4 linked regions of the Homo sapiens genome follow. The protein of the gene in region 2 binds, or shares a complex with, the protein of the main gene of each other region. Each region holds a gene or a part of one and is shown on either strand. Other genes may lie near its edges.

Region 1 (6,950 bases), on a different chromosome or scaffold from region 2:
GAATATAAGATTATTATCAAAATGAGTGAAAATTTTACAATGAGAGCGCCCATCTGCAGTCTTTTGAATGAATAAAAGTGAACCATCAAAAACTTTTCTAGGGACATGTGTTTACAGCATAGTATAAGACTATACTTCATAGTAGAATCAAGTTAACATAATTTATTCAAAATGAGTCATCTTTTCTACAAAATAAAGGTGTTACGTGAGTTCAAATACAGATTTTATGAGTCACAATTATAATAAAAAAGATGAATCACTGTACAAAGATCAAAAAGATATAAGGTTACCAATAAAAAGATAATATATTGAATAAATACTATGTGACAGAAATTTACTGCCCTTTGAAGATGAGAATGGAAGCATTTAAAAGTCCATATTAGACAAGTATAAAGAGATATGAAATTTCATGTAGGCTGCACTGGCAAAGATTAGAATATATTAAGATTGTACATTAAAGTTAATGCATTAATTTATATTACTTTAATTCCTATAAAGATTTTGTTAGACAACAACCTGTATTATGTATGGAAGTAACCCATTAATGTACTTTCATAGTCTTCAAGGAGATCTATAGTTGATTATAGAAAACTTAAGAATACAGCTTGGGGATAAAGCAGGCAAATCCTCAACCAAAGCAAAGTATCACATTTTCTAGAGAAAATAACTTATAGAAAAATAAGTCTTAATGTTTGGTTCATATTCTCATTTCAATTCAGCAGAATTACATAAGCTTCAAGTGCAATTAAGAATAATTAGTCTTTTAAGAAAACCACATAATGTCACAAATTAATTTTAAAACTGTCCTAATACATCTAACTATTCATTCAACAAATTCATTATTAGTAATATGAACTCTATGCATTTTGCCCTACAGAACTTGGAAGAGTAAACCACTCACTCGAAAATCTCTATTAGTCTGCTATTAATATAGACTATTTAAATATATATTTTCAGTAAAAACTTTACTAAATTAATACAAAAATCCAAGCTAAAAATAAATAATTGTTTAGCTTGGTAAGATGGACCATCCAGAGGCAAGCAAAAAGGTTAAAATTAGTAAATTTTGTGATCTTAAGTAAAAAATTATTTTTAACATTCAGTTTTATGTTTCCTACTGAGGAGATCTAATAATACAACGATACTTAGGGATGACACAGGATGAAGTTAGGCATGTTACAACATACATTCTAAATATCCTTTAAAGTGGTTGCAAAAGAAAATACTGATTTCTCTGGGGGCAATTTTATAAGTATGGAACTCTAATTTTCACTCTTAACACTTCTCAAAATATAGAGTATTATGAAAACAGTTTGTATTTAATTGATGAAACAATCATATTTTTGACACTTGTATAGGAGGTCCCTTCACTGTGTCATGGTAAAGTAACCAAATATTTACTGTGAACATTTTTGACAGGTGACATAAGTAAATTGTAATCACTTCTTTACTTGTACAGTACTTGAATGTTTAAAATTTTCTAATGAGTTTGAAAAATTCAGTATGCAAAATATTTCAAAAGAAATGTTTAAATCATTGCTCAGTATTTTTTAAAAATATTCCATCTTCTGTTAACAGGTGAGAATAAACTTTTTTCATCTTGACATTATAAAATAAATAAACTTAAGTTCCAACGTCGCCATAAAAAGTTCTCTAACTTTTAAACCATTTAAACGTCTTGGGTCTTAAGAATGGAATGTTAATAACAAAACACCCCAAGTCTTTAAAAAATGTTTTTGGTAAGTACTTGGCAAACAACTGAATTTAAAAGTTATATCTTTAAGCAGACTCCATTAATAACTGCGTCATTTCATAAAACCGTTTAACTTACAGTAATGTTCTTTGTAAGACACAACATACTACGATTTTTAAAAATAGTAACTTCTTAAAAGACTGATTCTCCATCTACTCAAGGCTTTAAAAATAATTTTCACAAATCAGACAAATGTTCTATTTTCATAGGAATTTACCATTATCTTTGACACAAATGCCTGCTTTGTCCACTTGCGCTAGTACCAGCCCCAAAACAAACTTTTACGGCTAGAAAATGGTCTATGTAAGATAGAAAATATTTCCTTTTAAAAGGCAGGTAAACAAGCATACTTTTAAATTGTTTCTCATTTAAAACTTGAATTTTACACCATGAAACGAAACAGTGACTTGATCGAAGAAGCCCATTTCAATTTAAAACCAATTTTACTATGACATTTCTGCAAAAGCGATTTATCAGCCAGTTAAACTAGTTAATAGTTAAATAACGACAGTTCTAACGCCAACAGCATTTTACGCTAGAAGTATTTTAAATGAATTCCTTTTACTTTTCTCCCCATTTGAAAGGATTATAGATGCGCAAAACAGCCCGAAGGAAAAAAGAAATAAACAAAACCAAGTAACTCATAAGAACAAATTACTCCCTCCCCCACCAAAAAAAGCTAATAAGCGCGCGCTTTTCTATAAATCTCAGGCCTACTGACCAACCAATTCCCATAAAGAGTAAGTTGGAGGAAAAAGGACCCTGAACGCTAAGCGCCTCCTAAACTCGCAGTGAAGCTTTTCCACATTCATTCTCTCCAAGCCTGCCTCTCTCGGAGCCGGGTTTTCACTTAGGCCAACCTCACCCACTCTTGGGGAGGACAGCTGCAAGGTAAACGACTCTGCAACCGGTACCGCCGTCCTCCTCACTCCGACCGAGGAGGCTGGGCCCGGGCTCCTTCCACACCTCGGCTTCGGGACCGCATCCCACACCTCTGCAGGCCTAGCTGCCCCCGGCCTCTGCTAGAGAAAAAGAATGGCGAGGAGGGACCGGATGGTTTCCATATTCCCAGTCCCTCAGGCCACCTCTCACCTGTCCAACCAGGGTGTGTAGGGAGCGAAAGATTTCGTAGAGCACCTCTCGGGAGAGGTTGGGTCTGCATCTTCGCTCCAGGTTCCTGTCACCGCTGCTCGGGCGATTAAGCTCCGTGGCAGCAGCCATGATATCTTCTCAGGCCGCCCCACCACCACCACCACCAAGATTTGCTCACAACCCCGCCCCCTCCCTTCCAGCTTTAGTCGCTTGGCGATGACGTAAGACACGGAGTCTGGTTTAGATCGGGCTTTGAGGCCCCACCCTCTCTATGTGAATGACAAGCACGTTACACCAATCAGTTGCAGCTGTGACATTGCGCCGAGGCTCTGAAGTGGGTAATTGCAGACCACAGCTAGGCTGGAATGCTGTGTTTGGGGTGGTCATTAGAGTCGTGGTCTCTTTAGCGTTATGAAGCCTACCTTGACTCCTAGGTGTTCATTGTGAATCTTGGTAAGAGGAGACATAGTTAAATTTTGTAGTTTGAGTCCAAAAAGTAAAAGTTGACATTTTAACATGGCGGTGTGGAGTGGGTCTGGAGGAAGCTTGCTGGTCAGGGATGGAGTGGTGCCCACACGTGTTTCTAAACATTGGAAAACTCACACGGAATTATCATGATTGGATAGAACATTTTCATCTCTTCAAGTTTGTTGTTGTTGTTTTGGAGACAGAGTCTCACTCTGTCGCCCAGACTGGAGTGCAGTGGCACTACCTCGGCTCACTGCAACCTCCGCCTCCCAGGTTCAAGCGGTTCTCCTGCCTCAGCCTCCTGAGTAACTGGGACTACAGTTGATATTCTCTGTTTTAACTGTAGAGACGCTTAACCCTAAAATTGTTTCAAAGAAATGAAACACTGTCAATATAATTCCAACAGGAATTTAACCTGGATAAATAATATCATGCAACCACAATCTTTGAAATTAGGACATAAAACCGAATTCAAATTTTACAAAGTATTATTTATCATAATAGCTTTATTATAACGATGTTTGTGGGGTTTTGTAATCTTTTAGTCAGACTCCGATATTTTTAAAAAGTGTTATCCAATTAAAGTATTACAATAATTTTTAGTGTTAAGCTTTATTCAAAAACACTTTAAGAAATCAACATCAGCTTAGAGATAAGGAAGGTGGGATTTAAAACTCGTAATTCTGTTAATAGTCTAATGCATTTACAGTAGAGAAAGCAAAGGTGGAAACTTGCACAATGTGTATTCTTTAGTTTTAGGGTAGACTAAATTAAAGGGAAGGACTAATGCATCAAGGAACTAAGATAAGGACGATGGGGATAAAAACTCCTTTGACCTGTCCCTAGGGAGTCTCTTAATTAGGCTTTCATTTCCAAAGACAAATGGGATCACCAGGCTTGACAGAATCTTGGGAAATCTTTTCTGTTCCCTTGTTGGCAGCAAGATATACAACTGACATTCCAGCCTATTTCTACAGGCAGAAAAATACTTCACAATGTCCAGTCTCAAATTGAGCAACCTTCTTATTCAAGCATGGTAATGGGGTAACTGTAAGTTTTTGTTTTGTACCAAATTAGCAATCAGTTTCAGATCATTTGTTTTCATTGAGGTGTTTCATATTTTTTCAAATATGGAGAACACTGATATGCAACACATTTGGGAATATGCTTTGTATATTTAAAAAATGTTGTCTTTAACAAGGTGCTGCTATTCCTTTCTTTGCCATCATTGATTTTGAATTTTCAAGTTTTACTTGTTCTTTTGAGCCTCTAATACAGAATTAACTGATGGCCATTTGATCTGTGTATTGCTTCTCCATGTAATTCTGTGATTTGATATCCAGACCTGCACTTGTATCTTAGTATTCTTTACTTAGGTACAGGTTGAGCATTCCTAATCTGAAAATTCAAAATCCAAAATGATCCAAAATTTGAAACTTTTTGAGTGCCAGTACCACAAGTGGAAAATTTCACACCTGATCCGACATAACAGGTCACAGTTAAAATGTAGTCAAAACTTTGTTTCATGCACAGAATTATTTAAAACATTATATAAAATTACCTTCAAGTTATGTGTATAAAGTATACATGAAACATAAATGAATTTTGTGTTTAGATTTGGGTCCCATCCCCAAGATAGCTTATTATATATATGCAAATATTCCAAAATCTAAAAAAAATCCGAAATCTGAGACACTTCTGGTCCCAAGTAGTTCAGATAAGGGATACTCAACCAGTAGTACTTAAAATTTGTTAACTCTTTTGTGCATTCTTTCTTCTTTCTAAGGACCTTTCTTACTCTTCTTGATGCCTATTACCTTCATTTTGGAAATTTTTCTCATTTTCTTATTTTATAATAGAAAATTCTATTTTAAATAGAAGAGTTTGTAGCCTGAAAAGATTTGGATTCCTTTGGGCCAACTCAAAATAGAAATTTGTAGATATTGTATGTGTGTATGTATGTATAACAAAAGTATAATATGCGCTATGAAATTTAGAAAGGGAATAAAGGGAATAATTTGCTCTTTATGGAAAACTAATTACAGTTTATAAAGTGGGTTGCTGAAAAATCTGCTGCCTGGCAGAAATGATTCAAAGTGTTGGTGTTCGCGTTAGCAACAGAGTTAGAAATACTGTCCAGCAGGCTTATGCCAAGAATCAATTGGGAGGATAGAGACTATAAATGAAATCTAGGCTATTTACCTTATCAACAAAAATGTCTTTTATGGTGAGCTTTAATGGCATAACTCTATTGAATAACCCAGTTCCCAGCAAAATACCTGAGGTATTAGAAGGGCTCAACTGATGTTTGTTGCATATATGATAATACAGATTTTATTTCAATGCAGAAAAAGTAAAATAAATGGTATTTGTCGTCCCTGTCTCCCCATCACCTGCTGCATAAGTCCAAGTTCTTTAGAATGACATGAAGGCTCTTATGATGTGGCCTTTGCCTAAATTTCCAGCCTCATTTTCTGCCACAAACCATCTGGTGCTTAGTGCTTCTGAAACTGCTTTTATGTCTTCAACACTTTACTATTTCTTGCCTCCATGCTTTGATTTTTACCCAGTGCCTGTTGTCTGCTTGAGAAACTCCTTTTCCATTTTCAAACTCCAGTTAGAAAATCTTTGGGGAATCCCCCCTCATAAAGAGCTTATTTTCTCCTCTGCTAAACTACTCCTACAACTTGTATATACTTCTATTATTGTAGTTATCACAGTGATACTTGAATTTATTTGACTATATCTGTCTCCTTATTGAACTATAAGCATTTATATGTTGGTGTACATAAGGCTTAGCATAGTTTCTGGCACAGAGTTAATTGCTCAGTATATGCCTGTTGAGCTGAATTTATTTGCCTTCATAAGTGAACAGATTTATAAAATGGAAAAAAGTAAACAAGTGCCTATTGTTGAAGGAAAATTGTAACATATAGACTGCTATAAACAATTTATTTTAAATAACGAAACAAGTCTGTTTATTCTCTTTTGTGGCAGCAAATTCAAAGTGTTCTAAGTTTTCTTAAGGGAGTAAATATAGCTAGCCTTCATAACCATTCTCAATAATTTTACACATACAAATTAATTGTACCTACTATATACCAGGCACTCTAATTGACATTGAGCTACAAAGATGAATCAGACAAGGACTGTTCCTCAAAGAGCTCCCGTTCTAGTGGGATAGGTAGATATATAAACAAACAACTTCATATAATGTGACAATGGCCATATTAGAGGTATGTATAAAGTAATGCAGCCAATTAGTTCCTTTGGGGAGGGGGTTGGGTCCAGAATCAGGAAAAGCTATAAACACTTAAAGTAAAATCTGAATTGATATTGATAAAAATATGAATTTGATATCAAAATATGAATTGATAAATAAGAATTCTCAAGGAATTTATAGAAAACATGAACAGCAACTTGAACATGCTTAATATGTTTAGGGAGGATACATTAAATAGAGAAGTATGGCTAAGCAAGCATTTCCTAAAGTGTATTTTATGGAATGCTAGTCTATAATGTGCTAATTTTAGCAAAACAGTTCATGATCAAGTAAATTGGGATAATAATTGGCAAATTGTATTGCCATTTCATGCAATGGCTCACAACATTACTTCCTATTAGCAAGGAGTTTAGC
Region 2 (7,025 bases):
TAATTAATTAAATTAAATGAAGGAACTGGCTAACATGATCATATATTTTTGTTCTCTGTACTATCTGCACTGACTTGTTCATTGTTTCTTTTTTCTTTTTTTGTGAGACAGGGTCTCCCTCTACTATCCAGGCTGGAGTGCAGTATGTGATCATGGCTCACTGTAGCCTCAAACTCCCAGGCCTAAGTGATCCTCCCAGTTCAGCTCCTGAGTGGCTGGGACTACAGGTGAATGCCACCAAACCTGGAGAAATTTTTTTTTTTTTTTTTTTTTTTTTGGTAGAAACAAGGTCTTACTATATCACCCAGGTTGGTCTTGAACTCCTGGGCTCAAGTGATCCTCCTGCTTCAGCCTCCCAAAGTGCTCAGATTACAGGTGTGAGCCTCTGCACCCGGCCTCTTGTTCATTGTTTGTTCCTAGCCTGTGTTAGCCTTTCTCACCCCTTATATTTAGGCTGAGGAGATCTCTTGCTCTCCTTTATGTTCTGAGTTCTTAAGGCAACTATGTATTGGAAGCCTGGCATCTTTGATTGTAGCCTAGCCTCTGGTGACTTTTGTGAGGAACCAAATGGTTTTATCTCCCTTTTTGAGGATTTGGAATAATCCCTTATGCCTTTTGTTGATGTAACAGAGAAGCCTGTTTTCCACCAGTGGAGCTTGTAACAGTCCCTCCCCTTTCTCTGCCCCACTTGAAAAGCAACCTCTATAAAACTTCGACATTTTCTTTGCTTAACTCAGTCTATCCATTCCCAGCTGAATACCAATCCCTAATACACATTCAAAACAAAACCAAAAAAGTTTTGCTCATCAAGCTTCCCCTCCTGGCCAGTGACCTCCTACTTGGGTTTCTTTCTCAGGTGTGTGAGTTGACCTCAGCCCCTGCTTTGCCATATAATGGCTCATTGTTCCTGTTTGTGGATCTTGCAGGTAAACAGGGCTACTTTGGAAGGAACAGATATTCCCTCACATAATAAAAAAGAAGGGCCTTTTGCTGGCCTAACAGTCTTTCTTTGATCTGAAGGCACACAGTACTTGGTTAATTACCATGTTTGCCTTGTACTGCTGGCCGAGTGGCAAGGATTAGGGAATGTCTGTTCTGCAGTTATTATTTCCATTCGTCAGCTGTCAAAGCAGGCATTGTGTGATGTTTCTTAACTGGATGACATCTGGGCATCAGATTTTAGAGTCTCCTACATGGTTAGGAAGAAATAGGTGATAGTCGGGCATGGTGGCATATGCCTGTCTTCCCAGGTAGTTGGGAGGCTGAGGCAGGAGGATCACTTGAGCCAGGGAGATTGAGGCTATAGTGAGCTATGATCGCAACACTGCACTCCAGCCTGAGCAACAGAGTGAGACCCTGTCTCAAAAATAATAATAATAAATAAGAGATAACTACTGTGGTGAGTAGTTACATTTGATGCTAAGGTATGTGTGACTGTATGTGTATTTTAGCAGATTATGGGTAATTCATGTGCCCTGAATATGTAATTCATTTTCAAGTGAATGTTCGGGTGCCCATGTTGTTAGCTAAACAGGCCTGAGGGAATGGGACAGGATTTCCTAAGCTGGATATAGTGATCCTATACCTAACTGGCCTGGCTGCACTGAACTTTTTAATACTTTACACCTGAGAAATTGTCACTCCTATTAAATCTATGCTGTTTCCTTTCTCTGTCTATAGGTAGACGGAGTGCACCACCCTTGAACCTCACTGGCCTCCCTGGCACAGAGAAGCTGAATGAAAAAGAAAAGGAGGTAACAAAAGGGAGGGGGCTGGGAGAAAGAGAATAGGGGCTGATTATTCATTGAGTTGTCATTAAAAATCCATTACAGGGTCAAACCCCTTTTGTTTCATTCATCTAACATATATGCACAGCTCTGGTGAATCCTAGAAGTCCAAGAGCTAAAGAGCCGTTTGTGGCAGATTTCAGAGAATTGCTTACCTTGTCACCCTACCACCATTCCTCTTTTGGGGAAAGCACATGTGGTATGTAGATGACATAATAATAGCAACTATCATCTATTGAGCACTTACCATGTGCTACTCTACTGAGTGCTTTATGTAAATAAAATTAATTTTTTGTAAACCTAAAGTAACTTCTACATGAAAATAGATATTTCCTATTAGAATGGCTGCCTTGAAAAGTTCTATACTTATTCCAACAACATAATCATTATTTAAAACATTTTTGTAAATTGTCTCCAGAGCATGTTTATAAACCTAAGGAAAAGATTTCTACATCATATATAGTCATGTTAATTTTGATTTTAAAAATTATTTTTTATTTTTATTTTTTTTTATTTATTTATTTTTTGAGACGGAGACTTGCCCTGTCACCCAGGCTGGAGTGCAGTGATGCGATCACAGCTCACTGCAGCCTCCACCTCCCAGGTTCAAGCGATTCTTCTGCCTCAGCTCCCCGAGTAGCTGGGACTGGACTATAGGCGCTTGCCACCATGCCTGGCTAATTTTTGTAGTTTTTAGTAGAGATGGGGTTTCACCATGTTGGCCAGGCTGATCTTGAACTCCTGACCTCATGATCCATCCACCTTGGCCTCCCAAAGTGTTGGGATTACAGGCGTGAGCCACCTCACCCGGCCTATTTTTTATTTTTTATTTGAAAGTCTCGCTCTGTTACCCAGGCTGGAGTGCAGTGGTGTGATCTCGGCTCACTGCAACCTCTGCCTCCCGGGTTCAAACGATTCTCCTGCCCCTGAGTAGCTGGGACTACAGGCGCATACCACCACACCCGGCTAATTTTTGTATTTTTAGTAGAGACGGGGTTTCACCTTGTTAGCCAGGCTGGTCTCGAACTCCTGACTTCAGGTGATCCACTCACACCAGCTCCAAAAGTGCTGGGATTAGAGATGTGAGCCACTGCACCGGCCTGATTAAAAAATTATGTGACCTACTTTTTCCAGTTGCAATCATCAGACATGTCTTCATATTGATTTTATCTGTTTCTAAAATTTAAAGCCAGCCTCATAAGAGTCATCATCAGGAGTTTTCAGAAAACTTTGTCACATCTCTGAAGTCTGTTCCTCTTTTGGAGGAGTTCCTCTTTTGCTCCTCATATGCTCCTTTTATAATTCCCAAGGTCAGTTCCCCATCTCCCACCATATATCATTAGTTCAGTTCAGATAATAAGGAAGGGTCATAGTGTAGGGGATAGTGTTAGTCTTATTTTATCCACCAGGAACAGTAAGGATTAGTTTGGGAGTGGAAGGAAATGTATGTAGTATCTATGTATTGCTGAAGGAGGTCATAGGTCAGCCTGATTCAAATATTGAATGGCCTGGAATTTCAAGCTTTTTTTATCCTTACCCACATAATGGTGACCTCAGACTCCTCATTGCTGGATAATGTGGCAATTTTCTAGATTTTTAGCAGTTAAAGTTACCTCCTCTTAGCAAGGTCTCTTTATCTCCTTTCCCTTTGAAGTAGGAAATGTAATCCCCAAAGCAGGGACTACTGCTTTATGCTGACACTAAAAACAATGTGATGCAGCCTTGAGAATCCAAGTGTCTGTGCATTCTGCCCCCACTGTGCCCCATGGCTCTTCCCTGACCATTGGTGCTGGGACTGTACCTGGGCATTTAGTGTTTGACTCCTGAAAGAGCCAGGCTGCTCCTCAGGAGCACATAGTTGTAAATCCCTAACAAACCCAGGCCCCTGAGCCAGCTGGCATGTGCTAAAGGCTCTTCTAGTATCACACCCTGGCTTTCTCTTCCTGGGTGTGTGTCCTTAGGGAGTGTTCTCTCCAGAGAGGAAGAGACTAAATGGAATGTAGTCCAGCCACCCATCAGCTCCTATAAATAGTTGGAGGTTGATGTCACTTTAAAAAATTTTTTGCTATACCTGCTGGATTAAATTACAAAAATGACAGATGTTAATGTTTATTAAATTTGCCGTGTCTTGCAGCTCTGTCAGATGGTGAGGTTGGTCCCTGGAGCCTATTTAGAATACAAATCTGCTCTATTGAACGAATGTAACAAGCAAGGAGGCTTAAGACTGGCGCAGGCAAGAGCACTCATCAAGATAGATGTGAACAAAACCCGGAAAATCTATGATTTCCTCATCAGAGAAGGATACATCACTAAAGGCTAAGGCTCCAAGAGCTTGGGATCAGAAGTCAGAAGTTTGGAATGTGGTGGGTCAAAGGACAATATGGGTGGGCATTCTGGAGAGTTGTTTTTCAGCTGAATTCTCATGGTGAAAACAGGGGAAAGGACAAAGGAAACCTTAAGTTGTATTGTCTACTTTCTTCTCCATCCTGCTTTAAAACACTCCTGTTGTTGGTATTATGCTGCAGAGTTGTGTGCTACATAAGCTATTATTAAATGTGAGTGGGCATTCATTCCTAACACCTCTTGTAACTAAAAGAACCATAGTACCTCACATCACAGTGCTGGTAGAAATGGAACTAAACCACAGTCTGTAATCCCAGGAGTCCAGCTCAGATCCTTATATTGCGAGGTAAGTTTGCTGATTATCTGTCTTGCCTTCAAACACTGCAGACAGATTTAAAATAAAGAGAAAGGTTTTAGAGCATAAGAAAGCTCTCGTTGAAGGATTTTTTAAGCTGACAACTTTTTTTTTTTTTTTTTGAGACAGAGTTTGCTCTTGTCCTCCAGGCTGGAGTGTGATGGCAAGATCTCAGCTCACTACAACCTCTGCCTCCCAGGTTCAAGTGATTCTCCTGCCTCAGCCTCCCGAATAGCTGGGACTACAGGTGTCCACCACCACACCTGGCTAATTTTGTATTTTTAGTAGAGACAGGGTTTTGTCATGTTGGCCAGGCTGGTCACAAACTCCTGACCTCAGGTGATCTGCCCGCCTCAGCCTCCCAAAGTACTAGGATTACAGGCGTGAGCCATCGCGCCCGGCCTAAGCTGACAACTTTTATGAGTAAAGGGGAAGAAAATATCCTTATGATGGTCTTATCCCAAACTGCATCTTTAACTTCGGCCGGGCAAGGTGGCTCACCTGTAATCCCAGCACTTTGGGAGGCTAAGGTGGGCGGATCACGAAGTCAGGAGTTCAAGACCAGCCTGACCAACATGGTGAAACAGTCTCTACTAAAAATACAAAAATTAGCTGAGTGTGGTGGCACACGCCTGTAATCCCAGCTACTCAGGAGGCTGAGGCAGGAGAATTGCTTGAACACAGGAGGCAGAGGTTGCAGCGAGCTGAGATCACGCCACTGTGCTCCAGCCTGGGCAACAAAGTGAGACTCTGTCTCAAAAAAAAAAAAACAAAAAAAAACCTTTAATGTCTGGCTTTGTACTTTGCAGTCTGCCTGTCTAATCTGCAGTAGTCTTTTGAGGAGGTGGCACCGGATATAACATGTCTCTGTTATTTTTAGAATTAATTAAAATGTTTTGCTATTTAATTTGTGGGTGTGTCAAATATTCTGGTAACTGAAACACACTTAAGGTGTTGGATGCCTGCCCCATCACGCTGCACTGTCTGCTGTCACATGTGTCCTGAACTCACCCTGTTTTTGCCCTGGGTTTCCCAGGATACCAAGCCCCTGAGGATGGAGATGATGCAACAAACCTCAGCTTTGCTTGGATTGTGACTTGAACCCTATTTCTCAATGGTGAAAGGCTAGCCTGCAATAAAAGCTGCTTTTAAAACAGAAGTAAAGCAGCTTTATATATGGGACTCACTAGATATGAGGGTAAGTAGCCCCACCACATGTAAAACTTGGTCCTCAAACGTTTCTGCAGAATAAGAAGCCAAACTTATGGTTATCTTGTTTCTGTTAGAAACAAAGTTGTATATAGAAATAACTTCGTCAGAATCGACACAAATCACATCGAATAGTTGACTGTTTAATTCCTTCTACATTCAAATATCTAATTAAAATACTGTGTGCTTTGTTGGAAGCATCTGCTCAAACTTTTGACTGTTGTAAATATGCATGCAGCTGGGAAGGGATTCATCTAAGGGATAAGAAATGAAAAAGACACTCTAAGGACCTGAGGGAATTCAAATAGAGGACTTCGATTTTTTAAAAAGAATGACGTGGAAATGACCTGTTTTCCTTGTAAAATCATATCTCGTAGAAAACATTTTACCACTACCATCACCCCTAGTTGGTTGTGAAGTGATTGCCTCTTATCCCTGAAAGGAAACTCCTGTTCTGAAAAGTTGGGATGCATTAGCCATCAGTGTTAGGTGACGTCTGTTGTAGTCTGAAGAGTCCTTAACCTTGATTAAGGAAGGCTTCCTGGGAGAGGTGGGCTTTTGGGGCAATTATATGATAGAGAAGAGAGAGAAAAATGGCAGATGGAAGTGGGAGACAATTCCACACACAGGGGGTGGAGAATGATGTGGAGGCAGCAGTGGGTGTAAGGACAATGGTGCCAAGAGATTTATTTGGCTAGAACACAAGGGGCAGCTGGGTAGTTAGGAGTGGGAGGATGGTAGGACAGTCTGACAGAAACCTTGGAAACAGTTGAACTCTGAAAAGCTGATGGCAAATCAGATTTCATGAGGAAAATGGCATGGTTGAAAATAGTAATAGAAAAATAAGACTGAAGTTTTAAATGACTGGATTTTTGAAAGTAGGATTATTATTTCTTTGGTATACCGAACTTTGCAAAGATACGTAGCATTGCATCCTTCCTCTTTGCTTCTAGACAGGGTTGGCCATAAACCAACTACACTGATAGAGGTCTCTCCAGATTGTCTCAGAAGAGAGAGTTTACCCTGAAACTTAATGACATGAATAAAACCTGTTTACTGAAATTTTTATTGCAATTTAACGTTAAAAGTTTCTGCTGGAGTTTTATGCATATTTTTCTCTCTAAGTGGTGGGAAATAAAGAACAAATCTCTTTCCATGTAATGACTCTTCTCTGTGCTCAAAGACCAAGACTCTGTCTCTTGCGATACCAATTAATACTAAATATTCAGTTTATCTTTTCCTGGGTCCCAGTTTCTTTCCTTTTATTGTTAACCGTCTTCACTTCCCCCGCTTTTAAAAATCTGAACTCAGTTAAGCAACCAGTCATTGAA
Region 3 (7,608 bases), on a different chromosome or scaffold from region 2:
TTAAAAATGTAATCTCTCAAAACAAAACTTCTTTGGAATAATTAAGCAATATGAGATTATAAATGTATAAAGTCTACAACCCCAACTAGGGAGAATTCTTGGGCGAAAATGTAGATTCTTAACCACTTTTAAGAATAGCATAATACAAGAAAAAAAGGTAAATTTTTAAATTTAAGGTAACACGTCAATACATGATTTTTAAAAACAAATCATCTTCATTACACAATGGAAATGCTTTTTCACTATAGCTTTCTGACTCACACATTAAACTGAATTTAGCATATTCCAAAGTTGAATTATTTAGCATACTGCTTGCTACAGCTGCACTTCTATTCCATCATGTCAATCAGAAATCTAAATATATCCTAGAAAAGAATCAACTCTCCCCAAGAAGACAGACTGTAATGTGTTATTAGGTTTTTGGAACGATCCCCACTTCTGTAGTGTAAACAAATGTTTAGGCAGACCCTGCTGAAATCTTTTGCAATTTTCATTAGAAAGGCAATGTTGATAAAGGTTCTTTTTCCTTTTTAAGAGTTGTAAAAAGAAATTATAGCTATCTGTGCTGGATAATCTTGTGAAAGACTTATGACAGCAATCACACATACAATGTAAAAATAAATACACAAGGGAAAAAATAGACAACTTGGCTTTCATTTTACTTGCTAGAGTATTCAGCACACCAAACAAGTAGAAAAAAAAAAAACTAGTACTAGTTTTAAGAATCAAATATGCTTTTTCCTAGGGATTTTTCTGCTTGTGTACTGAAATGGCAGGATATATTTTAAAACTACTTTCAAGACGTCATAAAGGATTAAAAATGAATCATTTAATCCTTTTGTCAATACTGAGAGTAAAATATTGGATATGGTCAATATAAGCAGATGTGTTCTCTACTTCAGTACAACAGGAAAGTCACATTTTAAAAAGTTAAATTATAAAAATTAAGTGATAGACAACCACCTGCCTATCAAAATGATTAAAATTAATCATTTTTCCCTGATTTCACAAGCAATCAATAACTTTAATTAGATTATTACAAAAGGCAAGTTCTCACCTCAAATTGAGTACAACTCTTTCACAAGAGTACATGTAAAAATATCGCAAAAGGTACGTTCCCGAAACATTATGAATAGTAAATATGTTTCTCCTCTCTGAAACCACCAGAATACAGTCCCCCAAATCCCTATTACGGGACCAAATCCTTTCCAGGATAAAAGAAACTGTTGAAGTTTTCAGAAGTGCTGTTCCATAAAAGCCTAAGTGTATACATTCAAATAGGAATGACAGCAGGAAAGGACGGGGAAATTTTCCGTTAAAAAAAAAACTTGCATAAACTTTCAATCAAAGATTTCAAAACTTATCTCCACAGAATAGAACAAAGCAAACGACATAAAAGCAAACGAAAAGAAAAAAACGAAAATTTAAAGTTCACCCTATTCTTACAGAATGGAACAGGAGTTATTTGGTAACTCATTCATGAACGTACCATCAAACCATTTTTAGAGCAGAAAACATACACCTTTTATTTAACAACGATAAACTTGACAACGTTGAACACATTGTATGTTAAGAATTTTTTAACTCATGTGTTCAGAAAATAAATCTTTTCCTCTACATTGGTGAAAGGTCAGGTGGGGAAGGGGGTGCTCTGTCTCCACCCACGTTGAAGTTCCTCCGTCTGAATTTTAACTTTCCAAAGGAGAATTTCTGCGTTCCTTAATTATTATCTAAGTTCAACTTCAGGCAAGTAATTCTTGTTGCTTCGGCTTACCTGGCTGTAAAGTGAGATCACTCTTATTCTTTACGTTTTGGGGACGCTGACCTAAATGTTTGCACTCCTTACATGTATTCGCTGGATGAAAAGTACTGCAAAAATGCTACAAAGGGATTGTTTTTAAAGCACCGGCTGCCTACATGCCAGTCTGGCTTTTTCATTAAGTTACTTACCAGGGAAGAGGAATGGAGGCTTTGACACGAAAGGGTCACGCGATTAGCAGACTGCTACCCTAGAACCTCATTCAAACCAGCTCTCACACACGACTTACCTTGTATGACATGCTCTGGTGAGATGGTCTTCTTTTCCGATTTGTTACAAATCTCATTGGCTTCAGAAGATATAAGGTGAATGAATTCAGTGCAGCAGTTCACCACCAGCTCTCGAGCATCGTTGGCCACCCGGACATTAGGAAGAGTCTCTTTGATCATTTTATTGATAGCAGCTCTGGGGATAGTGAGATCATCATCGTTGCCAGACGAGGAAGCCATAGTACCTTCCTGTTTCTCGCGCCCCGGCTTTTAAAAACTCCCCAGCTCTGGTCCACTACTCCACCGAGATTTCTCAAAAAGTCGCCCTCGGAGAGTGATCCCGGGGGGTGCTTTGCGAAGAGGGTGCAGAAAATGAACGGAGGAGCAGCTGGCTTGAGGGCTGGGAACACTCGCGTGTGTGAGAGATTTAGGATGAGTTTGGGAAGAAAGTGGGGGCCCGAGGATTCTAGAGAGAGCACAGCCCAGGCTGAGGAGGGGAAAGCGCGGTGGTCCGGAAATTTGAGCGGCTGGGGAACCACCTTCGTGTCTCCTCAGAGGGGCGGGCGCTGTCGCCTAACTGGTCCCCAACGGCGTCGGAGCAGAGGCAAGATCCAGGGGCACTGGCCTCGCCGCGGTACCGGGCGGGTACCCAGCGGGCTCGGCTCTATAGAGCCCGAGGCCCCGCTGCCGCTGCCGCCGCCGCCAGCAGCCGTTGCCGCCGCCTCGGCCAAACCATCCTTCAGACACCCGCGCCGCCGCCTCACAACATGTCCGCCGCTGCCGCTGCCGCTGCCGCTGCTGGAACGGCGACGGCCGCCTGGGAACTAATATGGACAGAGCCAGGCACAGTGGGAGTCGCAGTGGCTGCCGCCGTGGCCGCGTAGCCCGAACGCAGATCGTGGAAGCCGAAGACGCGGCAACGGTGGTCCCTCCAGATGCCAGGGAAGGTTTGCAGGAAGCCGCTCCCGACACCCTTTGCGCCACCGGAAGCCTCGTTCCCTCAGATTTCCCCCTCCCTCCCGGACCGACTTCCGGGTGTGGCTGCCGCCCTTCCCCCACCCACGCCGGCGGGAGCCGCCCGTTCGCGCTGCCAGCAGCTTCCGCCTGCTACGGTCCTGGCAAGCACCTCGGGATCCCATTCCTTCACAGGGACCCTAGCCAGGCAAGCGCGCGCCTCACTGTACCGGAGAGCTCCAAGCACGCGCTTGGTCTGGGGCCCGGACGCTACATCTGGGAAGGGGTGGGTGGCTGGGTAGATAGGCGAGGAAGGATCGTCTCTACCCTCTCTCAAGTAGCTGAGGCCTCCGAAACCTTCCCTAGCTGGATTTGGGGACAGAGGAGCGCTGGTATTGATAAAATAACTCTCTTTGCTATTCCTTTAGGAGCCCAAATGAGGATTGAAAGTGAGAAGAATGGGACCTGGGCTTGGGGGTGGGAGGTGGGGAAAGCAGAACCCCGTGTGCCTGTTTCTGCGTCGTCTGGAGAAAAAGCTTTTCAAGATGTCTGATAGACCTTATTCGGTTCAAAGCTCTCTAAAGTCCTTCACCTTTTTTTTTTTAAACTTCATGAAAAATGAAACATTTCAGAGAAGTTACTTGCCTAGAGGCAACTAAGTCGCCTAATGGCTAAGTAGGAAAGCAGAAGTCAGTTCCAACATAGTGGAAATGGAGTGGAAATGCATGGCATACAATGAGCTATATTAGAAGGTTCCCATTTAGACAGTTTTCATGTTGTATTCCATGTTGGCTTCTACAGGGGAAAAAAGTGTTAGAGCATCTTAAGCAACTGTTTTTACTTCTTTCCATAGTGACTAGTAATATCAACAGGTGTCAAGGTCTAAACAGAAATTGCATTTAAAAAAAAAAAAAGTGTGTCAGCCAGGCGTTGTGGCTCATCATACCTGTAAACCCAACACTTTGGGAGGCTGAGGCAGGGGGATCACATGAGCCCAGGAGTTCAAGACCCGCCTGGGCAACATAGTGAGACCCGTCCCTACAAAAAAAAAAAATATATATATATATATATATAATATATATTTATATATATAAATATATATTCCAACATCCCACTGTTTATAGTATAGCCTCTTCTATATGACAATATGAAACACGGGTTTTTTTTTCACCAGGCTTGGTGGCAGGCACCCGTAGTCCCGGCTACTCTGGAGGGCGAGGTGGGAGGATCGATTGAGCCAGGGGGTCAAGGCTGCAGTGAGTTGCGGTTGTGCCACTGCACTTCCAGCCTGGGTGACAGAACAAGATTCTTTGTCTCAAAAAAGATAAAAAAAAAAAAAAAGTAAAAAAACTGAGTCTGTCATACTGTCATGTGGAAGAAGAGGCTATACTATAAATAGTGGGATGTTGGAATTTCTAAAAACTAAACAAGACACTGTTGAAATCCATTTTGTCACTTTGGTTCATCAGATTCATTACTCTTGATACATATGATGGCAACTGGCTTGTTGACAGTGTTTTCTTAAAACGTTCTGTCTGAGCCCTATATGCTGCTCTCAAGAAGACATTACAGTTTATTATGCTATTTTTTCATTTAGCATTTTCTGCAGGACAACTTACTGGTTCTTTAATTTCTGAAGTGTAGACACTTGTTTTTCAGTGCTACTAAATTTAGTCAAAACAAAATTTCTTTGATTAAAAACAGTATTTTAATTAAATTTTCTTCAGGCTGGGCATGGTGGCTCATGCTTGTAATACCAGCACTTTTGAGAGGCCAAGGGGGGCGGATCACTTAAGCTCAGGAGTTCGAGACCAGCCTGGCCAACATGGTGAAACCTCACCTCTTCTAAAAATACAAAAATTAGCTGGGTGTGGTGGTGGGCACCTGTAATCCCAGTTACTTGGGAGGCTGAGACAGGAGAATCGCTTGAACTCTGGAGGCAAAACTTGTAGTGAGCCAAGATCGTACCACTACACTCCAGCCTGGGAGACAGAGCACGACTCTATCTCAAAAAAAAAAAAATACTTTATGAAGTGGTGGGTTTGTTTTTTTTTGTCAGTTTACTGTTGATTTAAAGATTTATTATGGTGCCTAAATTTATCTTGACCTTAACAAGTTTATCCGTCTGAAAAAGCTGGCTGGCAAAAAATGTCCCAAGTTGTCACAGTGTCACTGACCCTTATCTTGTCTCTCCTGAAAAAACTATAACTTTGCTTTTTCATGTAACATTTATGTTTATAGACTTATGCTAAATAGACGAGTAGAGCACACATTATTTCAGTAATAGTTTATTGCTACAGGCTTCTGTGGTAGCATAAACAGAATTGAATGTGTAGTAAGAGTTGTAGGTTCCAGTCCCAGCTTTTTTTTTTACTTAGACAAGTCACTCTCCAAGCCTCATTTTCTTCAGTTCAGATATAGAAATATTATGTAACACACAGGATTCAAAATCAAATGAGAGTTGTGTGAAAGTACTTTTTATAGTATGAAGTGTTATATAATGTTAGTGTCTTTTATCATCTTTATCAGGCTTGGTCAGTCTTCAACTAGTAATGAACCATGTAACTAGTTTATTACATACGTGGCTGAGAGAAATTTAATTGGATATAAATACCAGTGTGATATGTCATAAAATATGCTAATCTGTAGCCCATATTTAAATAGTTATTTATAGTACACTACATGTATCTGTATTATAAATAGGCTTTTAAGGACAAAGAGAACATCTCCTTATTAAGCTTTAAGAGTTTCAGAGAGAATGCATATATATGAAACTTTTTTTTTTCATGTTGTCTAGGTGTGGTAGTGCACACCTGTGATCCTACCTACTTGGGAGGCTGAGGTGGCAGGATCACTTGAGCCCAGGAGGCTGAGGCTGCAGTGAGCCATGACACTACTACACTCCAGCCTAGGTGACAGAGTGAGACCCTGCCTCAAGAAAAGGAAAAAAAAAGTTTAGCCTCAGAGTAGGGTTAGGGGAGTGTCACTGTCAAAAACAGTGGAGTTGAAAGGGAGCTGTTTAGAGAAGATGTGCTTGCTTTTGCACATGTTTGGGCAGGCATTTGTAGAAGTGGTGTCCTATAGAAAGTGGAAAGAGAAGACAGCATCTGATTTCTACATTCATTCAATAACTGTCTAGTGTCCTGACTATGATGTGGGAGAAATAAAGATGAATATAACTCCCACCTTGTTCTTGAAGACCCTATAATCTGGTGGGAGAAGCAGAATATAAACCAGATTCAAATAAATATTGTGATAAAATATACAGGCTAAGAATGCATGGGAAGAAGTGATTAACACACTAGTTGTGGAGTACAAAGGGTTTTATGGAGGACTGGATATTTTAACTGCACCTTGAAGATTGAGTACAATTTTGATAGGGAAGGAAAGAGCATGTAGCTGAAGAAAAAACACAAAAGTACATTGTATGGCTTGGGGAAATAAAGTAGTCTAGAGTGGCTCTATTAATAAGGTTTGTAAAGAGGTGTAGTGGTATATGATGCAGGAAAAGTAGGTTAGGGCAAAAAGAAAACAGATCAGTGCCTGATATGAATTATACACTGGGCCAAAAGTTTTTCATATTTGCTATTTCATTTAATTTCCATATAGCCATGCAAAATAGGTGTTTTGACATGGGGGGAAAACAGTCTCAGAGAGTTTTACTAATTTGTTCAAAGTCTCACAGATAATAAGTAATGGAGCTGAAATTTCAAACCAGGTTGTTACTTAACTCCAAAGCTGAAGCTATTTGTAATTTGGTAACTATCTCTAAATTAAAAAAAAAAAGGAAAAAAGGTTATATTCATTATAGGACTTTAAAAATATAAAGCACTTTCACATGTATTTGGTCTTTATAACTAGTCATTAATCCCAATTGATGGATGGGAAAATTGAAGCCCAGTGAGATTATTCAAGGTCACAGAGTGAATAAGTGGCAGATTGGAAATGCAACCCAAGCTTTCTGACTACAAAGTCTCAAGTCTTTCCACATCATTTTAAGAAGTCTGGAGATCCTTTTGTAAGCAGTGGAAAGAGTTAGTGAACATTTTTGAGAAGGGGGATGACATAAACAATAATGTTTAAAAAGATTAGTTTGAGTTCGCATGTGAGATGGTCTGGAATGGACAGAGACAAGAACATTAATTATTAAGCTATTGTAAAAATAGTAATGATGTAGACCTGAACAAAGAAAGTTTGGTGATAATAAGATAAAAGAAACAAATTAGAGGCATTTGGAAACAGAATTTACAGGATTTAGCTTCTGCCTGCATCTACCGTGAGATACGAGGACCGTGCCTAAATAATAATGGAGGTGGGGACAATGATGGTAAGAAGAGGTAGATTTGGATGGAGAGAAAGAAATAGCTATCCAAATGGATGTATCCAGTGAGAGTTGGACAGCGGAGATGTGGGATCATATAGTAGGGCTATGTAACAAGTCCCTCTATAGCAGGGTTTGTTTAAGCTAGACTGTAAGTACCCAGAGCCAGTGAGGGTCTGGTTTATTTCTGCATCCCCAGAGCCAGGACAGTCCTTGGCACTCAATAAATATTTGTTAACTTTGAAACTGGATAAAGACCTTTAAGGATGGTAGAATTTTTTGAAAAATGTTCAAAGACAGAAAGC
Region 4 (7,404 bases), on a different chromosome or scaffold from region 2:
CCCCATCTCAAAATAAATAAATAGGGTTTTTTTTGTTTTGTTTTATTGGTTTTTTTTTTTTTTTTTTGAGAAGGAGTCTCGTTCTGTCACCCAGGCTGGAGATCTTGGCTCCATGGCACGATCTTAGCTCACTGCAATCTCCACCTTCTGAGTTAAAGCGATTCTTGTGCCTCAGCCTCCCCAGTAGCTGAGATTACAGGCGTGCGCCACCAGGCCTGGCTAATTTTTTTGTATTTTTAGTAGAGACGGGGTTTCACCACGTTGGCCAGGCTGGTCTCGAACTCCTGACCTCAAATGATCTGCCTGCCTCAGCCTCCCAAAGTGCTGGGATTACAGGCATGAGCTACCGTGCCTGGCCAATAAATGGTTTTTAATAGTGGCTATATAGAGTAGAATTAATGGGAGTGGGGCCCAGGGCCTGCGTATGTTTGTGGGGTTTTTTCCAAATTATTTTACCTATTTTTAAAAACTCACCTAATATAATACCTACTTGCTGGACCTCCTCCAGGCCTACAGCTTCATTATGAGGGATTTGAAGGAGTCCCGGGATTGATATAACTCAACTGAAACACAACTGTCTTGAACCATGCACCCTTGGCAAGATCACCACTGAGACAAAAACGGAGGTGCTTATTCCACTCCCCCAACTGCAGGTCTTCCTGTCCTGTGCTTCTTACACCATGACACACCGATACCCACCCTCCCAAGCCCACACCATTCACCAGAATCATTCCTTCCACACCTGCCTCCCAGATCCTACCCTTCCTTCTCAGAGATGTCACGTGTGCTTATGATCTGGCTCTCCATCCCATCATTTGCTATCTTCCTCTAGGTTTCAAGGTCTATGCTGATTGCCTCACACATCCTTCCTGTGACCCTCACTGAACTACCTTTCTAACAACTTTCCTTACTAATCACTAAAGACCTCTTTATTCTTCCAACCCTAACACCTAGAACTCTGGCTCCTCATGTAGCACTGCTTAATTTTTGCTAGGTTACTGTGAGGATTACAGATGATATACATAAAGTGCTTAATACACTGCCTGGTATGTGGTAGACGGTCAGGAATCAATATTCATTATTTAATTTCTTGCTTCCTTGAACCTTCCGACACATCCACTGTGCTAATCATTTGTCCTAGTCTTTCCCACTGCTATTAATACAATGTAAGCCCCTAATGAAGAACCGGACATAAAAGGAAAAAAAATAAACACACACACACACACACACACACACACACACACACACACACGTTATTTTGGTTCTTCAGCTCTAACTTCCAAATAACCACTTTTCCACTCTGTAACACAATGGTGCTTAGTCCTGTGTTAAAATTCTCTGGGTTACTTTTAAAACATTGTTGAACCAGGTCCCCATCCCCAGGAGATTCTGGTTTAAATGGTCTGGGGTGGGGACCAAGCCTTAGTCACATTGTAAAAACTTTCCGGGAACATTTGATGTTCAGTTAGGGTCCAAAGCCAAGCTCTAATCCATCCCTACCCAAACCCTTCAAACATCACTTCACTGACGTCAGATCATCTGTCATACTAAATTTTACTCCATCTCAAGTTTTCCCAGGATCAACATCTTTTACTTTTCCTTGTAAGAGGCGGAAGTCTTCTGCCTCTATTCCAAAAGCCAGCCCCTTAGGAGCACATTTTAATCCCAAATCTCTGATCTCTCCTGTGCCCTTTCATTGTTAAGTCATCTCAACCCCTCGTCAAAATTCTTGTACCATCACATGCTTCCTCTCTTCTAATTTCCACAGTCTGTGAACACCAAGAACAAAGACCTCATCCACTTCATCTCTGTATATCAAGCACATAGCACAGTCCAAAGGTCTGGGTAGGCAAATCAAGAAAAGACTGTTTACTCTTGATTCATCCAGTCCATTATTTTCACCCTTGGTGAACTAGGTTCAACCCCAATCACTGCCAAGTTGTTTTCTGAAAATTCACCAATGACCCTGTTCTCAGCAAGGTCGTGAATCACTGATAGACTCTGGAAGAGTGGAGTTTCCTTATCTTTGTATTCCCAAGGTGCTTAGTGAGGTAGCTTCCACACAGTAATCACCCATTAAAGGTCTGTCAACTTGAATAAGAAAGAAAATATGAACTGAGAGGACAGAATAGTCACTGCTGATCAGCAGGTCACGGATATTTCCTGAAATAAAAGTACCAAAAAAAAAAATCTGGAGACTGTTATCTCTATCGTTCCCAGATTCTAGTTTCCATAGCAAACTGTTCATTTAAACGAGAAGTGCAAACATCTCACCAAATTATCTTGGTCAAAGGCATGGAGAGTGAGTACGGGGAAGGGGGGCTCCCTTACCATGGGATAAAATCAATAGCACGTAAAACACATTAGGCTTTAACCCCAACCTTGGGCCAGGAGGGAGGCTGGTAGCTTGCAGAATGCACCCCAAGAAACTCCTTCCCCACCTTCTATTTTCTAGCGGCCCAAGTGAGATGTGGAAAGGTCCGCACCCTGCGGGCCGGCTGTGACTTGAAAACAGAGCCACTGGGCACCCCAAAAGCTTGCGTGCCGTGCCTGTGCGGAGCAAGGCCCCTTCAGCGCGGAGCTCCAAAGGCGCTAAGCCGGGCAGCCGGGTCGTCCTGAATCTGCGGGCTGCACACGCCCGCCGGGAGCTGCAGCGCCCGGAGCCCAGCAGAGCGGCCGCCGGCCGCAGCCGCAAACGCGTGGGGTGCAGGGCCGCGCCACCGCGGGGGAAAGACACGAAGAGGAGCTGAGGAACCGAGCGGGCAGAGACCACGAGAGGCCCCAGGTCGACGCCGCGCGCGCGGGCCCGGAAGAGACGGTCACGTGACACCGACCTGCTGGTCCCACTGCTGCTTCACATGTACGCCGGCCACTGTGGCCGCCGTCAGCAGCACCGAGAGGCCCAGCACCACCTTCGAGCTCCTAGACATCCCCACGCTGGCGGCCGCGGCCTCTCTCTCCCGCCCGCCCGAGGCGCAGAGGCCGCCGCAGAGTGCGCACCGCCGCCTGTACTGCCCAGGCTCGACCCCTCGAGCGCAGAGCCCCAGCCGTCGCGTGCGCCGCTCGCCGCTGCCAGGCGTGAGCAATCGAGAGCCGAGCATAGAGCGGCGCCCAGGCTCTACGAACTCTTGGCTTCACTAGGGGCCTCCTGCACACCCCGCAGGCGACAGCGTTAGACCACCCCCGATTCAAATTCTAGGAGTCCCGGCCCAAACTGGCCCCGGCACCTTACCAGGGTGGAGGGTGGGGGTTCCATGCCCCTCAGTCAGTTCAGTACCAACCTCACCCCGGGCGGGGTCTGGATACCGTGCTGACCCCTCTCCCACAGACGTCCCTTCTGAGCCCCTGACTGATCCAGAAGCTTCGCCCAATACCGGCTTCGCCTAAACGCAGCCCCCTCATTGCTCCTTTGGCGGGGCAGGCGCCACCAGGAGACCGCCTCGTTAGGCAGCTTCAGAGGCGCGGGGTTCCCATCCGTGGAGTTTTTGCCTGAGGACCCATTATTAAACGCTGTAGTCGCGGTCACCTGGTTTCACCTTGACGCTGTGGGGCGACTGGTCAGGCTCGGATTATTATTATTATTATTATTATAATTTTGATACAGAGTCTCTGTCTATCGCCCAGGCTGGAGTGCAGTGGCGCGATCTCGGCTCACTGCAACCTTACCGGATTCAAGCGATTCTCCTGCCTCAGCCTCCCGAGAGGATTACAGGCGTGAGCCACCGCGCCTGGCCCCATGTAATCTTTGTGATCACTTTTACACCCAAGTTTCCGCGCCAGTAATACAAGGGAAATAAATGATATAAAGAAGTCTTGCGTTGGGAATAGTTAAGCAATTGTGCAAGACGCATTTTCACTTCTTCCTCGGGTAAAAAAGGCAAGGCCTCCCAGAAACTTTTAAGTATCTGATAGAGCAACCAGTGAAAACGTGTTCATCATTCAATCATTCTTTCCCACTAGAATTCACAGAGAACGAGCTTCTTCCGGTGGACACGGCTATAGGCAGTATTGATTAAGCCTCACCAGGGAGTTTTACAACATTCATTACTGTTCATAGTGCTTTGCTATTCCAGTCTCTTATGTGAGCGTAAATGGCATAAGGGGACTATTGCTCTTAAAGGTATCTTTAAAGATACCTTTTCCAAATGTCATTTTGTCCACAGCATTTTTTGCAGCCTAGAGAGAATGTACCACTGAATTGGAAAATGGAGTTCTTGCTGTAATGAACTTTGAGAAGAAATTCAGTTCAGGGTGTATTTGCATATTTCTCTTTAAAAATTATATTAGACTTCTTTTTATTCGTGGTATATCCTAGATATTTTCCCCTGTAAATCAGTGAGCCTTCAACAGAGCTGTATGTCCTTAGAGTGTACATCAGGGAATTAGATCAATCGCCTTTCATTTTATTGTGACTAATTTTTCAACTTGTTTTCTTGAAATGTACTCTTTTCTTTATTTTCAGGATACTAGAAGCAAAAAAAAAAGTATTCTACTTTTAAGAAATCATTTATTATTAACTGTGTCAAATAAAAAAGTGGGTTGGGGGACTGAGGGAGGTCTTGCAAAAAAAAAAAAGTATGTTTATCTGTTTAAATATTTATAAGCCTAAGCAGTATATTTTCCGTGATTATTGTCGCATAAATTACTGATTTGTGAGAGTGACTGCATATCATCAAACTGAGAAGCAACTATTTTTTTCTTTTTCTTTTCTTTTCTTCTTTTTAATTGAGACAGGGTCTCACTCCGTCGCCCAGGCTGGAGTGCTGTGGGGTGATCTCACTGCAACCTTTGCCTCCCAGATTCAAGCGATTCTTGTATCTCAGCCTCTGGAGTAGTTGGGGTTACAGGCCTGAGCCACCAGGCTGCACTAATTTTTGTATTTTTAGTAGAGATGGGGTTTCACCATGTTGGCTAGGCTGATCTAGAACTCTAGTACTGGGTGCTGGTACTGGGTGTTTGTGAAAATTGGTCCAGTGGCACACCAAGGCTGTGTGGTCACACATACATGCATGATACACTTCTATACAAAATCTTACATAACTATACGAACAGAAAAAAAATGGCTCTTTTTTGTTTCTTTTATTGTCTTTATTTCCTTTTGATTTTTTATTGTGTGTTTTTTTCTTTTTTTTCCCATTGGTTCATAGCCGATGGCTTTACATTTTATCATCACTTCTTGTATCAAATAGCTTTTTGGCTGGGAACGGTGGTTCATGCCTGTATTCCAGGCACTTTGGGAGGCCAAGGCAGGTGGATCACTTGAGGTCAGGAGTTCGAGAACAGCCTGGCCAATATGGTGAAACCCCGTCTCTACTGAAAATACAAAAATTCGCCAAATGTGGCAGCGCATGCCTGTAATCCCAGCTACTTGGGAGGCTGAGGCAGGAGAATTGCTTGAACCCGAGAGGCAGAGGTTGCAGTGAGCCACTGCACTCCAGCCTCGGTGACAGAGTGAGACTTCAACTCAAAAAAAAAAAAAAAAAAGTTTTTTCTCCATGGTAACTATCAAAAATTAAAGAGATGATCATTTAAAAAGATTTTGATCAGCCAGGCGTGGTGGCTCACACCTTTAATCCTAGCACTTTGGGAGGCCAAGGAGGGTGGATCACTTGAGGTCAGGGATTCGAGACCAGCCTGGCCAACATGATGAAACCCCGTCTCTACTAAAAATACAAAAATTAGCCAGGTGTGGTGGTGGGTGCCTGTAATCCCAGCTACTTGGGAGACTGAGGCAAGAGAATCACTTGAGCCCGGGAGGTGGAGGTTGCAGTGAGCCGAGATCAAACCACTGCACTCCAGCCTGGGTGACAGAGTGAGACTCCATCTCAAAAAAAAAAAAAAAAAAAAAAAATCTTGATCAAGAACTATGTGCAGGAGCAATGATCAGGAACTATTTTTAACACAAAACTTGATATTTAAAAGAGACTCCAAGAAGAATGTTATCAGGAAATTTTACCCAAAGTTGATATTTAAATCTACCCCAAGATTTGCTTTTATTTTTCTTCTCATAATTATATGTCATTTATTTTTTTGTTTTTCTTTTTCTTTTTTATAAGAGTACCATATAAAGGAAATGTAAATAATTATTATCCATGAAGCTCCTTTTAGAATTATCCAAGCTCACGCAAGTTGATCCCAGTGAGTTGTACAGATATCCTTATTTTTTATGTTTACCAAGGTGGGACGAAGCTTAGGAAGCATGGCTGATTTAATACAATTTGCTTGTAAGGCCAGAACATCTGAACCTTGTGTATCTGGCTATATTCTAGTGTCTCGGCATCCTAAGATCACATCAGTTCCTGCCCCTCTCAGCTTTGGATTGACTTAGGTGTGCCCAGAATGGCCACTGCTTTCCTGGAGAGGACAGTGGGTGCCTTGCCCTGCCATTGGCTGGCCTTCAGAGTGAACTTACCTCCAAAGACAAAAATAGGAAGCTGACCACCTTAAAAACCGCTCAGTGGCTCCCCATGCCTACAGGATAAAGTCCCATACTCTTTAGAACAGCATACTACCCTGTCCTTCCCTTCAGAATCCTCTAAGCAAGAGGCAGCATCAAAAAAGAAGTACAGTTGGAAGTCAGGGCTTGGAGAAGAATCAACAAATGAAAACTAAGGGGAGGGAATGCAGTCATTTTCCTGTGTTTGAACAACATGGTCACACAATCTTTGTTCCACCTTCACTCACACAAGGGTGGGGACTTGAAAAAAATGCCTTCCTCACTGAGTGTGTAATTTGGCTTATGTTATTTGGGCTTGAATCATGGCCAGGTCCTGGCAGCTATCCTGGGAGAGCTGGGTTTCGGGTCACTTCTGTCTTAAAGAATAGTAAATCACTAGTACCCTAGCAGGAGGTATCAGTAGGAGGCACGGGTTTAAACTGGGCTTGATGGTGGGCATGAATGCAATAGGTCAAGGCAGAGGCTTCAGGCAATGATCAGAAGCTTGTCATCATTGGGGCTGAGAGAGAAGGAGGAGGTGGGAAGGAGGAGGTTTGTTTGGGAAGAAGGTGGAGGGTGTCAGCTGAACTGGCACCAGTGACTGATAAATTTATCAGTCTCAGCACTAAATGATTACAGAAACATCACACCACATGGCACCGCATAAAGCACCATTATGACTATTTTAAATGCAAGCAAGAAGGCTTGCCTTGTGTATGGCCCTGTAGTGGGCTCTATAGGCAGACAAGGCCACGAAATCCCACCTTCTTCAGGCTGAGGCTCTGAAGTCAGCACATAAGGAAAAAGTCAAAAACAGTTAAAACTACCCTTGAAAACATTTTAGGAAGGTGACATGTTGAAGAAAATAGATATTTTCTCAGGAACTCCAAAACAGCCAGTTTTTCTTCTGGTACTGGAATTAATCACCATGAATTCAATGCAGTATCTATATAAGTAATCTGAAATTC

The links.
Region 1: TADA2A (region 2) and MBIP share a complex: the UniProt entries of both Homo sapiens proteins name them as parts of the ADA2A-containing complex.
Region 3: TADA2A (region 2) and DR1 share a complex: the UniProt entries of both Homo sapiens proteins name them as parts of the ADA2A-containing complex.
Region 4: TADA2A (region 2) and KAT14 share a complex: the UniProt entries of both Homo sapiens proteins name them as parts of the ADA2A-containing complex.

What each region holds. Positions count from the first base shown.
Region 1 is NC_000014.9:36,317,615-36,324,564, forward strand, and holds the start of MBIP (MAP3K12-binding inhibitory protein 1), read right to left. Parts: upstream 3,024-6,950; 5' UTR 2,975-3,023; coding exon 2,846-2,974; intron 1-2,845. UniProt on the Homo sapiens protein: Inhibits the MAP3K12 activity to induce the activation of the JNK/SAPK pathway. Component of the ATAC complex, a complex with histone acetyltransferase activity on histones H3 and H4.
Region 2 is NC_000017.11:37,472,876-37,479,900, forward strand, and holds the end of TADA2A (transcriptional adapter 2-alpha), read left to right. Parts: intron 1-1,680; coding exon 1,681-1,754; intron 1,755-3,921; coding exon 3,922-4,107; 3' UTR 4,108-6,850; downstream 6,851-7,025. UniProt on the Homo sapiens protein: Component of the ATAC complex, a complex with histone acetyltransferase activity on histones H3 and H4. Required for the function of some acidic activation domains, which activate transcription from a distant site. Binds double-stranded DNA.
Region 3 is NC_000001.11:93,341,306-93,348,913, reverse strand, and holds the start of DR1 (protein Dr1), read right to left. Parts: upstream 3,008-7,608; 5' UTR 2,269-3,007; coding exon 2,049-2,268; intron 1-2,048. UniProt on the Homo sapiens protein: The association of the DR1/DRAP1 heterodimer with TBP results in a functional repression of both activated and basal transcription of class II genes.
Region 4 is NC_000020.11:18,133,482-18,140,885, reverse strand, and holds the start of KAT14 (cysteine-rich protein 2-binding protein), read right to left. Parts: upstream 3,024-7,404; 5' UTR 2,931-3,023; coding exon of another isoform or gene 2,835-2,930; intron 2,816-2,834; exon of another isoform or gene 2,332-2,815; intron 1-2,331. Other genes in the region: protein PET117 homolog, mitochondrial precursor, read right to left, coding at 2,835-2,930. UniProt on the Homo sapiens protein: Component of the ATAC complex, a complex with histone acetyltransferase activity on histones H3 and H4. May function as a scaffold for the ATAC complex to promote ATAC complex stability. Has also weak histone acetyltransferase activity toward histone H4.